Linked DNA regions of Homo sapiens: region 2 is linked to region 1. Evidence: fine-mapped expression QTL. Tissue or cell type: whole blood. Region 1 holds a variant in brackets; the other region holds the start of a gene. All regions are shown on one strand. Distances are between the middles of the regions.

What was found. PIP is the estimated chance that this variant, and not a neighbour inherited with it, causes the effect.
Region 2: SESN2 starts here. The variant in region 1 is fine-mapped to the expression of SESN2 in whole blood (INTERVAL, PIP above 0.99).

Annotation. Positions count from the first base shown.
Region 1 is chr1:28,304,877-28,307,557 of GRCh38, reverse strand. No RefSeq gene overlaps it. Among named protein-coding and RNA genes, the nearest start is that of MED18, 23 kb to the left of the region's middle. The variant T/G (reference allele first, on the strand shown) is at 1,199.
Region 2 is chr1:28,258,365-28,261,045 of GRCh38, reverse strand. SESN2 (sestrin 2) reads right to left here and starts at 1,528. Exons shown (of 10, transcript NM_031459.5): 1 at 1,109-1,528. The coding sequence starts at 1,198. RefSeq lists silencers at 618-677, 1,458-1,667 and enhancers at 937-1,785, 1,778-1,957.

The DNA of each region.
Region 1 (2,681 bases):
CCCGGCCTTTTTTCTCTCTCTCTCTCTTTTTTTTTTTTTGGGACGTAGTTTCCCTCTTGTTGCCCAGGCTGGAGTACAATGGCGCGCGATCTTGGCTCACCGCCACCTCTGCCTCCTGGGTTGAAGCGATTCTCCTCTCTCGGCTTCCTGAGTAGCTTGGATTACAGGCATGCACCACCATGCCCAGCTAATTTTATATTTTTAGTAGAGACGGGGTTTCTCCATGTTGGTCAGGCTGGTCTCGAACTTCCGACCTCAGGTGATCCGCCCGCCTCGGCCTCCCAAAGTGCTGGGATTACAGGCATGAGCCACTGCGCCCGGCCTGCCTGACTCCTTTAAAGCATTTTTTATATGCATCAACTCATTAATCTCCATATGAACCTAATACTGTAGATGCAATTATTACCCCATTCTATTTTATTTTATTTATTTTATTTTATTTTATTTTAGACAGGGTCTTGCTCTGTCACCCTGGTGGGGCGCAGTGGTGCAATCATGGTTCACTGCAGCCTCAAGCTCCCTGGCTCAAGTGTTCCTCTCACCTCCGCCTCCCAAGTAGCTGGGACCATAGGTGGGTGCCACCATGCCTGGCTAAATTTTTTTTTTTTTTTAGAGAGACACAAAGTCTCACTATGTTGCCCAGGCTTATTACCCCATTTTAAGATAAGGAAACTGGGGTCTGAGAGGTTAAGTAACTTGCCTAGGGTCACATGGCTTGTAAGTGGTAGAACCAGGATTTCAACTCAAGTTGTTGGACTCCTGAGCCCAAGATCTTATTTTGTTTGCCTGCAACTACACTTGCACCATGGGACTGGCCCCCTGGGCTGGCTGATTGGATCTGCAGAACTCTCCATTTCCTAACTCCAGTCCTTTGCATGGGTCAGCTGCACCTCCTGTACCTTCAGAAAGAGAGTTCCCTTTCTAGCTTAAAGCTGAGGAGGTTTCTGTTACTTACCTGATTCAAAAAGGATAATTTCTGCCTACAGGGTAGCACAGGGGCTTCCTAAGAGCTCAGTGAGCAGCGAACATGTGATCCTGGCATCTGAGGACCCACAGAGACCACATGCCAGAGAAAAGATGAAGTGCTTAAGCTTCCGGAAGGCCAACAGCTCAGCAGCCCTTGGCTGTATGTATTTCAATGTGTAAGTGTCCTGTGAAGAGTTTTTAAAATAAAAAATAACTTATATTGCTGTTTTTT[T/G]TTTTGTTTTGTTTTGTTTTGTTTTGTTTACTGTATGCTTACTAAAGTTCATCACAGCCATAACAGGAAGAAAATTTCTTTTTATTCTTTTAAAAATAAAAGATTTTATAGGTTAATTTATAAGCAGTAGAATAGTGTGATTAAAATCCTGGGCCCTGCACTCTGGAAAACTTTGTCAGTTTCTTTTTCTTTTTCTTTTTTAAGACAGAGTCTCGCTCTATCGCCCAGACTGGAGTGCAGTGGCGGAATCTTGGCTCACCGCAACCTGTGCTTCCCAGGTTCAAGTGATTCTCCTGCCTCAGCCTCCTGAGTAGCTGGGATTACAGGCGTTCACCACCATGCCCGGCTAACGTTTGTATTTTTAGTAGAGACGGGGTTTCACCATGTTGGCCAGGCTGGTCTTGAACTCCTGACCTCAGGTGATCCACCTGCCTCGGCCTCCCAAAGTGCTGGGATTACAGGCGTGAGCCACCGTGGCTAGCCTGTCAGTTTCTTAAAAAATGAACCGCATAGGCGGGTACAGTGGCTTGTGCCTGTAATCCCAGCACTTTGGGAGGCTGAGGGAGGTGGATCACCTGAGGTCAGGAGTTTGAGACCAGCCTGGCCAACATGGTGAAACCCCATCTCTAGTAAAAATACAAAAATTAGCTGGGAGTGGTGGTGGGAGCCTGTAATCCCAGCTACTCAGGAGGCTGAGGCAGAAGAATCGCTTGAACCCAGGAGAAGGAGGTTGCAGTGACCCAAGATCCTGCCATTGCACTCCAGCCTGGGCGACAAAAGTAAAACTCCATCTCAAAAAAAAAAAAAAAAAAAAAAAAAAGAATCACACAGCTACCATACAACCTGGCAATTGCAATCCTGAGCATTTATCCCAGAGAAATGAAGACTTACATTAAGACAAAAACCTGTAGTTGAATGTTTAAAGCAGTTTTATTGGTAGTATCCCCAAACTGGAAACAATCCAGATGTTCTTCAATAGGTGGATGGTTAAACAAACCATGGTACATCCACAGAATACCACTCAGCATGGAGTATTACCCAGAAATAAAAAGAAACGAGGCCGGGCATTGTGGCTCATGCCTGTAATCTCAACACTTTGGGAGGCTGAGGTGGGAGGATCACTTGAGCCCAGGAGCTCAAGGCCAGCCTGAGCAACACAGGGAGACTCCACTTGTACAAAAAATTACAAAAATTAGCTGGGCATGGTGGCACACACCTGTAGTCCCAGCTACTCGGGAGGCTGAAGTGGCAGGATCACTTGAGGCAGAGAGGTCGGTGATGCCAGTGAGCTCTGATTGCGCTACTGCACTCCAGCCTGGGTGACAAAGCCAGACCCTGTCTCAAAAAAAAAAAAAAAAAAAAGAGAGAGAACAAATATGAATACTTGGAACAATCTGGATGAATTTCCAGAGAATCATGATGAGTGAAAAAAAGCCAGTCTCAAAAGATTAAACACTGTATGATTTATTTATATAAAATTCTT
Region 2 (2,681 bases), 47 kb after region 1:
TGCAATCTCCGAAATCATAAGGCCAAAGAACAAGATATTCAGTGGGGTTAATGAAGAAAGCCTCTTTCTGAGCCCATCGTGGGCCTCAATGTTCTTCCTGTAAAATGGGGCTATAGCGTAGCTTGTATTGCTGGTTTAGTCCTGAGGACTTAGGTTAAAGGCGAAAAAAACTCAGAGCCTGGTATCTAGTAGGTGCATAATAAATGATAAGATGTCCATTATCGCTGCTGCTGGTAGTGGTGGGGGAGTGCGAACTGTCAGTCTGGTTAGGTCCAGCCTAATTCCCGGTCTCCCTGCAAAGCCCCTGCGGGCTATGCCGGGATGCGAATGCGGGGGGGTGGAGGGGAGCGGCGCGAAGGGAGGGTGGGGGAGGAATTTCTGGAAAACAAACTTCTGGGCCTTCAGACCACTTACTTAGCAGGGCGCAGCCTAACCCGCGCTTGGCTTCGGAAGCCGCGACCAGGGTTGTCCCCTCTCCCCCCAGCTTTGGCTGCCGCCGCCGCGTACCGGGCGGCCCGCCAAGCCCCCAGAGCCCCTGCGCTCTCCCTCCAAAGCAGGAGTGCGGTGGACATAGGATGAGGTCGACTTTCACTGGCCAGTCCCAGGTGCCTACGCCCCGCGCTGGGGGACAGGAGCCGGGAGGCACCCCAGGAAGGGTCCTCTGCCCGCCGGCCCCCGCGAAGAGGAAGGGACTCCGCGGAAGGGGGCGGGGAGGAGGAGTGGTCTGGCCGCTCCGGCCGGGATTTGCCTGGACTTGAAGACGCTCAGGAGCCCAAAGCTCGGAGAGCCTCCAGAAGGCTTCTCCCTCATTGGCCAGGAGTCCGAGGGAGCCGAGGAAGGATCCGCGGCCCTGGGGTGGGGCGGTGAGGGAGAGGGGGAGAGGGAGGGAGGAGGGGGAGAGGGAGGGGGAGAAGGAGGGAGAGGGGAGACAGAGTGGGGGAGGGGTGCCGAGGGCCGCGGCTGCCAGTTGATGCAACCCGGGTCCCGGGTTACGCGCTCGGCTTTCCCTCCCCGAGCCCAGGACACACCGACTCAGCTCCGGACAGCCTGAGGCTCAGACGCGGTTCGGGGTTCCAGGGAAGAGGGGCGTCGCGCGGCCGCCGCTTACCTCTCCGGGGCCCGAGTCGCCGACGCCGCCCGGGGCGAACCGCAGGTAGTCCTTGAGCTCTGCGCGGCACTCGGAGTCCGCCACGATCATGGTGCGCGCCAGGACCCGGTCGCGGCTCGCCGACGACCCGTGCACCCGAGTGGGTTTCGGAGGGACGCCCGAATGAAGCCGGGACTGGGCGCCGCCGGGGAGCTTCTAGAACCCCGGGGCGTCTCTCGGGGCTCCAGAACGCTCCGGAATCCGAGAACGGCCGCTTTGGTGCTGGACTCTTCCCCCAGTCGGGCTTCGGGAACGGCGAACGGCCTCGGGGGCCTGGGAAGGGCCGCAGCGCAGGGGTTTTCACGGCCTCGGAAGTCCGCAGGGGCCAGGGCTGCTCCCGGACCCAGCGCTCCTCAGCATCCCCGCCGCGGAACTGCCAGCGCTCGCCGGGCTCTGACACCAGCAGTTCAGCCCGCTGCGGTCCCCGGGGGAGGGCGGGGACACAAAAGCCCGGCGGTCCAGCCAATCAGAGGTCTGTTTCCCCGGGGAGGCGGGGGAAACTCCGCCCCCTGGAGTCACGGGCTCCGCCAATCAGCACCGGGGAGCGCCCGGAATTCTGGGAGTTGTAGTCCGCCTCGGGTGAATGCTGCAAACTTTTGCAAGACGGTTTAGTCAGATCCCTGGCAACACCAGACGGCAGTGACAGCCCTAAGAGTCATTAGGGTTGCGTGATGAAAAGGGACTTCACTGGGCTAGGCCAAACAGCCGAGTGTGAAATCTCCTAAATGAATTCTTCATCTTTTCAGTTCCTGGAGGGACTGGCTAGGGTTAAGAGAGGTTTGGCTCGCGTCCTATCCGGTGCTGCTAATTATAGAACTGAACCCCAGATATTTAGAGGTCAGAGGGCACAACCCTGCTCCCCCTGGCCTCGGGGAAGCTCCAAAGATGCGAGACACAGGGAATTCACCTTATTTGTGGAGCCTCAGGAAAAGCCTTCATTCCTTGAAATGTCATTGGTAACTTCGTGTGGAACCTCAATCCCTATTGCTGGAAGTTTTCTTCCTTCTGCTACCCGTCCTGGCTTCCACCCCTCCCACCCTCCTCGAAACTTTGTAACAAGGTGTTCTGCTGGATCTTTGCTCACCTCTCCCTCTGGCCTTCTCTGACTCCTCTTTCACCACCCACTTCCTAAAACGTGGGTGCTTCCCCAGTTTGTTTTTGCCCCTCTTCCCTCCAGACACTCTCCCTGATCTCATTCACTTCCTGGCCTTCAACTCGCCTCTTGCCAGAAAGTTGCCTCTACCAACACCTCAGCACCTCCAAGCTAAATTCATTTTCTATTCATTTCAAACGGAGCCTCTTCCTTCACAGTTTTCCTTCAGAGCTCCTTTTTTTGTTTCCATTTTAAAGTTATTGTTTATTCTAGACAGGGAATCCTGCCAGGGGTGAGGGTGGATAAGACCCCCAAGTCCCCCTCTGAGACTTCTAAGTCTAAGCTTACAATTCCAAAGATGAAACCGACTTGGTTTCCTGCCTCCAGATTCTTGGGAAAAAGAGATTAATCTCACCCTCCCCTGAGCTCCCAAGGCACTTG